Regions from separate parts of the Homo sapiens genome. Here all the other regions are reported to be linked to region 2. The links are microRNA targets in miRTarBase. Many come from high-throughput screens and were not tested one by one. Region 2 holds a microRNA gene; each other region holds the end of a gene's coding sequence.

Evidence for each region. The annotated mature microRNA hsa-miR-661 reads UGCCUGGGUCUCUGGCCUGCGCGU and lies in region 2 at 1,687-1,710, opposite strand. An mRNA with a match to its seed (bases 2 to 7 or 8) in the 3' UTR can be bound and repressed. Matches are read on the target gene's strand: a 7mer-m8 pairs with bases 2 to 8, a 7mer-A1 pairs with bases 2 to 7 and ends in A, and an 8mer does both.
Region 1: miRTarBase lists TUFT1 as a target of hsa-miR-661. Seed matches in the 3' UTR shown: 7mer-A1 at 2,168-2,174 and 7mer-m8 at 1,637-1,643.
Region 3: the mRNA of TIMM10B is a reported target of hsa-miR-661. Seed matches in the 3' UTR shown: 7mer-m8 at 823-829.

What each region holds. Positions count from the first base shown.
Region 1 is chr1:151,581,373-151,584,618 of GRCh38, reverse strand. TUFT1 (tuftelin 1) reads right to left here. Exons shown (of 13, transcript NM_020127.3): 13 at 1,036-2,975. The coding sequence ends at 2,912. Among named protein-coding and RNA genes, the nearest start is that of SNX27, 29 kb to the left of the region's middle.
Region 2 is chr8:143,943,520-143,946,765 of GRCh38, forward strand. It overlaps MIR661 (microRNA 661), which reads right to left and starts at 1,760; the gene lies at 1,672-1,760. It overlaps LOC124902040 (a long non-coding RNA gene), which reads left to right and starts at 345. Exons shown (of 2, transcript XR_007061144.1): 1 at 345-651; 2 at 2,047-3,246. It also overlaps a transcript of PLEC not described here. RefSeq lists a silencer at 392-661 and an enhancer at 3,190-3,246.
Region 3 is chr11:6,481,712-6,484,957 of GRCh38, reverse strand. TIMM10B (translocase of inner mitochondrial membrane 10B) reads right to left here. Exons shown (of 3, transcript NM_012192.4): 2 at 3,106-3,201; 3 at 277-2,913. The coding sequence ends at 2,737. Among named protein-coding and RNA genes, the nearest start is that of TIMM10B, 1.8 kb to the right of the region's middle. RefSeq lists an enhancer at 2,835-3,246.

The DNA of each region.
Region 1 (3,246 bases), not on the chromosome of region 2:
TTTTGTCCAAGGACTCTCTTAGACCCCTGGTTCGAGTCTCTGGAATGCCTCCAGACTGCTCCATTATCTGCAACCCAAATCTTGGTTCCTCCCACTGAGCACAGGAGGCCCGGCGGGAGCCTCCCTTTCATGTATGGCAGCACACTCACTCCAGTATTCCTCCAGCCCTGTGAGTCTTCTTGGCACCTTGGTCAACCCCGCCCTGCTTCCACCCTGTTAATATTCTAAGAGCAAGTACAGTCTAGATCTAGCCATGCCAAACAAGACTGCCAGAGAAAGAAGAGAGCCACGGGTGTCAGAAGACAAATCCGGGTCTGCAAAGGAAAGAGGTTTCCAATGTGTTTGAAGCCTGTGGTGTGAATTGGCTGAGAAGCAGGAGAAGGGGGAAGAAATCAGAGAAAAATGTACACTCTTTCAATTGAAGAAGAGAAATGGGAGCTAGAAAGGAAACAAGCCAGGGATGAGGGGTTGTTGTGTTTCTGGTTTCTTTGGCCCAGAGAAGATTCATGTAAATTCAGCTATGTCCCCATTTGGCCCTGCAGTCAACTGCCTTCTTGGCAGAAAGGAAAAAAAAAATCATGAGACTAATTGAATGATGCCCAGAGACAGCCAGAAACGAACCCCCTTGAACAGCTGCAGTCAGCATTTCCAGAGTGCTTTTCATTTCTGCAGAAGGCATGCAGTTACTCATCTACCTCCAGTGCTGCTGTTCTATCTCTATGTAATCACAGGACTCTACCTCTATCTCTTCCAAATGAGACACAATGCGGCCAGGCTTAGGGATCCTACAAGGCCATTGCTCCAGAGAGGGTCAAAGCTAAAGTTAGGGGCTGCCTCCTACAATCACGACTCAGAGCACGGAGGTGAGCTTCTTCTAATACCTCTATAAATGCCACAAAGTCCTCATATCATGGCATTTGGGATGTTTGGACCACACCTCCCACATGTGGATAACAGGGTGCCCATCTTCCAAGAAGCACTAAAATGTTCTTCTTTCATCCTCCCTGAAAAGTGAAAGGAAACCAGACCAGGAGGTCAAAGAGACACATTAATATAATTTATTAAATTCGCCATACAAAGAATATGCCACAGACAACAATATCAGAAAGGGAAGAAACATGGATATCACCTGCTCTGACCCCCTCATTTTACAAATGAGGGAACTCCCTGAAATCCCAGAGCATTGTTATGGACAAAGCCAGAATGTGAGCCCAGTCTTGAGACACAGAAACACACAGACTTAAGGATTCTGGCTGCGTGAGCCACATAGAGCCTAAACACTTAATCCACATTTGTTTTGAATTTTTCTGATTCCTATAGTACCATACTCTGATGCCTATCTACTTCTCAAGGTTGTAGGAAGAGCCCTAAAGAAAAACACCATGGGCCGGGCGCAGTAGCTCAAGCCTATAATCCTAGCACTTTGGGAAGCCGAGGTGGGTGGATCACCTGAGGTCAGGAATTCGAGACCAGCCTAGCCAGTATGGTGAAACCCCATCTCTACTAAAAATACAAAAATCAGCCAGGCGTGGTGGCACACCTGTAGTCCCAGCTACTCGGGAGGCTGAGGCAGAAGAATCGCTTAAATCCGGGAGGCAGAGGTTGCAGTGAGCTGAGATCGCGCCACTGCACTCCAGCCTGGGTGACAGAGTGAGACTCTGTCTCAGAAAAAAAAAAAAACAATAAAAAAAGAAAACCATGATGACCTGCAGGGTCATTCAGAGCCAGGATAAAAGACCAATTATGGAGCAAGGGGTTCAGAAGGGCTAGTGAAGAACTCATCTGGGTCCCAGAAGAGTCCTGATTGCCCTCTTTCTCCAAACAACATATACTCTGACCCCAAAGCCTCAGGGAAAGTAGACTCACCTTCCTTAGCTGCAGAGCAAGTTTGAAGGAGAAAGAGAGAAGAAACAGGCAGAGGAAAGGGAGAGAAAGATTCATAATAGTGTCACTCTGACATTAACAAGCCTAATGGGAACAGTTTTCCCGGTTTCAAGCAAATCCAAATACTGCAAGAGAAGGCTATAGAACTTTGGTATTATATCAATCATGAGATGTAAGCAAAACCACCAATAACTTAGCAAAATAAATACAAAGAGGATTTTGCTGGGACTGGTGGAACCCAGTGAAAACAGTTTTCAGGCTCTGGGTCAAGAAGACTGAGGTGTGCCTGGTGGTACACCTTAGGGAAAATCCCTAAAGAGACTCTGGGAGTTTTCACAGCAGAGAGAAGTCACACATGACTGTCTGTAGCCCTAGAGAATTTTTCCGCAAAAGGCTACTCCCTGAATGTACATTCCCTCCTCCCCAGAAAGACAAGGCCACCCAGTCAAAGCTTAGGTTCACTGGCTCTCACCAGGCCTTGCCAGGTAACCCCACTATCTGTCTGCAGGAGGCCAGGGCAGCGTAGGCTGCAGATGGAGCAAGTAGAAAAACAAACAGTTTGTTGCTAAGAACTGAGCTGTGTTTGTGGAAGGAACTTCATTCCCCCAGGACATTCTCCAATCACTCTGGACATCTGTGTCTCCAGCTTTTAGGGCTGAGGCAAATCTTGTCACCTCTCCCAATCTGATGAAGGCCTGGCTTATGGCACAGCCAGAGTCCAGTCTACAACAGAAGGGAGGCTCTCTACAGAGAAAAATAGTCACTGTAGGAATATAGATATTGCCCTGGCTCCTGCTTGCAGGACAATGTCTTCCAAAGGGCTGCAGTGCCTTGAATAGGTGCTCGTGCTCCGTCTGCCCAGCTTAGAGTGGCCAGGGGCTTGGGAATGGTGAGACACAGGAGCCCGAAGTCCTGGGTGCAGCCAGGGGACAGTCAGGAAGTCAAAGGCAGTGTTAACAGCCAACAGGGGCAGTGGGCTTCTCCGAGGCAGAGGCAGCAGCAATGGCAGCAACCATCTCCAGGCAGCTCAGGTTTCCACCACTCGGATGACAGGCATGGGCTTCGGGCTAGGCGGCTTGGATATCCTAATACTGAAAAGAAGGTTGGAAACACTGAGTTGTGCTGGGAACAGCTGTGTTGTGGCCCACCCTTCACAGAGCCCCTGGAATCTTCACATTGGCCTCTGGAATCTTACACTGCAGTGCTGGCTGATCACTTGGGTTCCAAGTGCTTTAAAACAGTAATTATCAGTGACAACTAGGGGAAGATTTGGGGCATGATACATGTGTCTTGTAGCAAGGGTGAAGAAAAGAGAGGGGCAGTTAAACAACTGAGAAGTGGATATAGCTGTGATTCTCGATT
Region 2 (3,246 bases):
CGCTCCTGCCCTGCCGGCCTCCGCTTCCACCCACCTGTCCCGCACAGGCTGCAGGCTGAGGGCCACTGCAGAGCCCGCCCCGCCCTGGGACTGCAGCAGGGTCAGGGTCTACACTGCAGGGTGGGGTGGAGGGGCAACACTGCTTTCACTGACATTCAGCTTGGAAACAGGAAGGGGAGGGCGCAGGGAATGAAGGGGCGGGAGGCAGGCGGCCCCTCTGCCCCGCCTCGAGTCCCTGGCAGCCACCAGCGGGGCTTACCTTGCTCGTCCTGCGCCCACCGACGTCCCCTGCGCCAGTGCCACACAGCGGCCAGGGTGACAACGTGACCCACAACCACCAGGGAGGGAAACAGGCTGCCCGAGGGCTCCATAGCCGCCACGCGGAGCCGCCAGGGCTGCCCTTCCTGCGCTGGGAACCGGCTGCTCCAGGCTAGACAGCCCCCTCCCTGCGTGCAGGGCGAGCGAGGGGGAGCGCCGGGACCGGAGCCTGCCCTGCCCGCAGGACCGCCCCATACGCGGCGGCAGCCCCACAACAGCTCCCGCCCGCCTCCTCTCCTCCTCCCTCCGCGGGTCCGGCCCTCGGCGCCTCCCCACCCTCGCTCCCCACCCGGCCGGCTCAGCTGTCCCTGCGCAGGGCTACTGACGCTCAAGGTTAGTTGGCCTTAACCCCTGCGTCCCCGCGGCCACACCCGCCGGGAGGAGGGGCCAGCCGCACGCCTGGCCAAGCCGCAGCCCCCCAGCACTGCCCGCGGCCTCGGCACACACCCTCCCTCCCTCCCAGCCTCCCCCTGCTGTCCCCACCAGAAGAGGGGCCCGAGCAGCCCACTCTGCCTCCAAGGCTGCCCTCTGGGGACAGCTGGCAGGCATGGAGGGATGCCAGAGCCCCCACCTCAAGCCTGCAGCTGAACCCACTGCACTCCTTCAACTTCGCCCTCCTCACCAGCCCCAACACCCCAAAAGTGAGACTGCAGACCAGGGCTGAGGGGGTCTGGGTGAGGGCACATGAGGCAGGCTGTGTGCAGGGCGAGGGACAGCGCCCCTGGCCTCCAGCCTCAGCCCCAGCCCTCTGGCCCCTGTCCCCAGCAAGGGGCCAGGATTTCACAAGGCTTTCAAGGGCTGCCCACCTACCGGGCACGATCTTCATCGGGGACGGTGGCAGGAGCCCACGGGGCAGACGGAGCGGGCCAGGGGTGTGGGAGGTCACAGGCCCCTCGGAGGAGGCACAAGCCACTGGCGGCAGCGTCGGGTGGGAGGAGGGCACGGCCGTGCTGCTGTCAGCAGCAGCTTGTGGGGGAGGGGAGCAGTGGGCAGGGGCCCAGGGGATATAAATATCCGAGGAGGGCGCGCAAGGACCGTCACCACCCAGACTTGGAACATGACGCACGGCGCCAGGGCACCCAGGCCCCGCTGCAGTCAGGTCTGGCTGGACGGTGCCACCCGACACCTCGGTCCCCCAGCTCCCACAGGGGGTTCTAATATAATAGAGCAGGGCGCGGGAGGTGCGGGCTCACGTCCCTGCAGGAGGCGGTGCAGTCCCCACCCACCTGCCCTGCCAAGCCAGGGGGTGCTCTTGGAAAGGCCACAGGGGCCAAGAGAAGAGGCCGCCCATTCTCCCAGAGGGCCCTGCGCAGGTCACTCAACACAGCACCTGGCCCCACCGGTGGCCGGGACAGCCACCCCAAAGTCACGCGCAGGCCAGAGACCCAGGCAGCCCGAAACCAGGGCTCAGGCCTGCGCCTGCCCCACAGCACAGCCTCTCCTGGGGTCCCAGGGATCTGGGATGGAGACGCCTCTCCTGGGCCACGGCAGGAGACTGGCCTGGCTCCACCCAGGAGTCCCGAAGCCCTGCTCTGTGGAAGGCCTGGGTCAGAGAGCCGGGCCACAGGCAGGCCCACAGCATATCCTATGCAGATCAGATCCCAATGCAGCCGGGGAAACAGGACGTGGGACACGCACAGTCCTGCTCCTCTTCCTGGGACCCCTGTCTGCTGGGCGCACCCCTCAGGCCCAGGAGAATGCACGTTGACGGTATACCCCATTCCACAGCGTCGCTCCTGGCACCACATGGAACCCTCAGCAAACCCCATGAAGTCCTATACCATGAAGGCCTCATACAGACCAGGAGCCTGAGGCGCCGCCTGCTGTCCCGCACGCTGCCATCTGAGCCCAGGTGGCCTCCAGTGTAGTTACCTCAGCCCACAGCAAGGCACAGTGAACCAGCCTGGCCCCGGGCCACTGGGCAGGCCACCCAGGTCCATGCTGGGAAGCCCGCGGACAACAAGAGGGCCGGGCCCACCCCAGCCTCCTGCTCTCCAGCCCCACACCTCAAAAACGTGCGGCCGAGGGAAATGCCTGCAGTGGCCCACTCTGGGCGGCCAGGGGTCGGGCGGGCCCAGGCAGCCCTGAGGGTCAGGGATACCCAGGCATGCCAGAAAGGGCCCAACTCCCAGCTGAGCCCAGGACAGCATCTGGCCAGCAGTGGGCAGGGGCCGACAGGCCGGACGTTTCAGCCCACTCCCTGCCACGTGCTGGGGAAGCCTCAGAGGAGCCTGACTCAATGGCCTGGGTGAGAACCAGCTCCTGGCGGGAGGAGTGCCCCAGGCTGGCAGCGGGCAGTTCTTCTACCACTCCACGGAGGTCCGGACAGGCCTGTGCTTCCGGGACACACATCACACACACCCCTGGGGCAGCTCCGAGAGGGGGCTGTGCCTATCCCTGCATCCCAGGTCTGACGGCACAGAACGGTGGACAACGGGAAGAGACAGGTCTGCCAGAGGCGGCCCCGGCCCTCTCCTCTGCCTCCCACAGCCCCCAGCTCTGCCTGCCCTACCTTGGCCCAGCTGAATCAGCTCCTCCATGCTGTACCTGTCCATGGCTGCCACACAGGCCAGGCTGCTCCGAGAGCCGGCAGGGAGGAAGGCGAGGCAGGAAGGAGGGAAGGGGTGGGAGGCAGAGGGAGGGCCCACTCATGCCCTGGTAGCAGCGGCTCCTCCTCGCAGCCACCCCTTAGTCAGTAAGCAGAGATGAAGCCCAGCCGACTGACGGGTCAGACCAGCCCAGCAGACCTGCCTGGGGGTGCAGGGGACTGGCCTGCCTGCAATCCCAGAGAGCCCTCCGGCCCCAGCCCACGGGTCTTCCCTACTGTTCCTGCCCCGCCCAGCAGACCCCCCGCCCAGCAGACCCCACCCTGTAGCCTCCCCTTCCCGCTGCAGGCCCCACCAGCCCAGCCCTGCCCTCCCACCCTCC
Region 3 (3,246 bases), not on the chromosome of region 2:
TGGAAGGTAAAGTGGTAGGAATAAGGTTTTTCTCCTGAACACTGAACATATTTATAAACAGGAAAGAACCAGGACAAGAGATTGAAATTTTAAGAAAGGGATTAAGAGATGGGTCAGACTGAGGGACATTTGTTTTTTCATGCCTAGAGGCAGGTTAAGTACAGATAGAAGCTCTCAAAGTTCAAAGAGCAAAGGCTTTAGAATCAGACAGATCTATGCTCCTAGCTCTTCTTTAGCAATTACTATTGTGTGACATGGAAGGACGGGAAGCACAGATAATTCACAATGGAAGTTTATTGCAAGGATACACACAAATGTTGATGTGGAAGGGTCCTCCCACCAGCAGCACAGTATCACAGGTCCCATCCTCCTATCTTCTGGAAGTTAAGAAGTTCAAACCTGTTTTACTTGCATTTATATTTCCCAAGGACAGAGTGCCACCCTGTGGGTAAGGTCCTAGTCAGCAACTTTTACCTTCCTAACAAACTTTTCTGTTCAAGAGATAGCAGCTAAAGGGGGCAAAAAACATGATTGGAACCACTTTTCTCAATAAGAAACTTTGTATAGGCCGGCCGTGGTGGCTCACACCTGTAATCCCAGCACTTTTGGAGGCCGAGGCGGGCGGATCACAAGGTCAGGAGTTCAAGACCAGCCTGACCAATACAGTGAAACCCCGTCTCTACTTAAAATACAAAAACAAAATTAGCTGGGCGTGGTGGCGCATGCCTGTAATCCCAGCTACTCGAGAGGCTGAGGCAGGAGAACTGCTTGAACCCGGGTGGCGGAGGTTGCAGTGAGCCTAGATCGCTCCACTGCACTCCAGCCTGGGTGACAGAGCGAGACTCTGTCTCAAAAAAAAAAAAAAGAAGCTGTGTATAAATGTTTGCACGAAATCTGCAGAATGTGCCTTCTGGCACATTCTGGATTCTTGCTTCCTCATCTGTTAAGTGAGGTTAATACCTCTTACTTATAGTTGTTGTAAAGATTAATATAAAGCATGACATCTACCAAAATCAGAACCTACACAAAGTGTGTGCTCAATAAATACTATCTTAAGAGGCAGCCTGCTGTGTAAAATGAACATGGACTTTAAAGTCAGATCTGCACTTTAATACCGGGTCTGCTACTTGAGAATTTCAATTTTCTGCTCTGTAGATAGGATAGAACATCTGCTTTGTAGGTAGTTGTAAGAAGTTTTAAAATTATTACTGTGGAAACCAATGTCTAAGAGCTTCAATTTCTCTAAAAAAGGAAACAGGGTCACCTGATGAGGGTGGGGTATGGGATTAAGGACAGCAGTAGAGGTGTAAAATAACTGCCATGGTAATTAGAGAAGGAAATGGACCAGGAACCCATAAAGGTGTGTGTTGGTGTGACTGCGTGTTGGTGTGAGGACTTGGCTGAGGTTGGAGGCCTTGAATATTTAGTGGCATTCATTACACAACTGTTTTTCTCTAGCAGTTTGAATGAAGGAATGGAAAAGACAGAATAAGTGGAATGATACAAAAAGATGGCCAATGGTGGCAAGAAAATGGGGTGATGGAATGATATGCTATCCAGGCTGCTGAATACAGAAGTAAATTACACAAAGTTGGGGGGCGGGGGAGGCAATAATGAGAAAAGAATGGAGAGGCTGGAATTAGAAATCACAGAATGTACTCAATGGGACCAATGTGGGGCAGATGATAGAAAGCTGGATTTAGGAGTTTCTAGACGAGCAGTGAAACATTAACGTAGCATTAAAGAAGTCCCGAAGATTTAGTTTTATCCCTTTTTATCATAACCATTGCCATCTACTTCTCCCTTCAGTTTCTCTTCCTCGGATTTGGCTGCATTGCAGAATATGGTCCCCAGCTCTCTCCCTTCCTGATTGCCCGTGAAGACAACCACACAGACCTTTGTTCAAAGGTTTTACTGCTCATCCTGAGAAGACTGTACATACTAAGAAAGTAACAACCTGGGGAAATGGCTGAAGTTCCAAAAGACTCCAGACTTCTTACAGGTTTCATCTCTCTTCTGTGGCCACTAACTTCCCAAGGAGGCAGTGCCCAAAAGCCCTGTGGTTTTTTGATCCGTTGTACTTCGATAGCTCCTCCTTTCCCTAGATCCAGCAGAACTCTAGACATGTAAGACATAGTTCACAAAACAACAGTTATGAACCAACAAATACTTGGCTCACGGTTATGAGCCACTGAAGTCAGTCAGACTTAAGGACAACTAGACAGAGCTCCCATTTTCTGTCATCTGGGCAGGAACCAATCTCCTGTTGTATAAAATGACCTTCTGGTACTTTCTGGAATCTTGCTTCCTCATCTGTTAAGTGAGGCTAATACCGCTTACTCATAGTTTTGTTGTGAAGATGAACTAAGAGCATGACATATTACCCGTTTTAAAATTGTACACACAGACCCTGCTTTAACCAGATGCCTGCAAATGCTCAGGTTTTCCTTCTACATATAGAAAACAATTTCTCAGCTGCCAGGGCTGAAGCCAGCAGATATGCACTAAACGACAGAACAACGGATTGTGCCAATAAAGTAGGCAAAGCTTCCTTGCCCAGAATATAAATCAAACTGAGTAAAAACTGGGTATATTGGCTCCAGGAAAAGGAGCAAGGACACCCAGCTTTCAGGCAACCTCGAATTCTCTCTGTTTAGGATTCACCAACCCCAAGGTCCACCGGGTCCTTCAATCTGAGGGTCCATCCAAGGCCTTCCTTCCTGGGGTTGGGTATGGCTAGCTGCCTGATGGAGAGACCCCAGGCTGTTCAGCAGCAACGCCTGGCACAGCCGAGGCAGCCTCGTAGTCTGCGATGCGGCGCTGTACCAGGGCAGGCATGAGCTGCACGTAAGCGGCCATGAGGCGGTGGTTGGAATGGATCAGCTTCCCAGCACAGCTGTGCAGACAGGCCTCCTAGAAGGAAGATAGGGTTTAAGTGGAGGATAAAGGTGCCCTGTCGGGTCCGCCTCCTTTCTTCCCCATGCCCAGCCTAGGGGTGAGGGTCGTGGGAAGGCCAGGGCCAGAGGTACGGGAAGTGGGGTGAGGAGGGAAGCAGTCTACCGCTAAACTCTTCTTGCAGCGTAACCTCCCTACACAGTTCCCCACCTCCTCAGCGTCCAGAGCTCGGTGGTGCAAGCTGGGCACACAGCGCTGGAAGCAGAGTTCTGTCATCCGATTGTAGACCAACAGGAAGTCACGCAGCTGAGAGAAAAGGGGGACCACAAACTCAGCGATAAGGGCCCCACA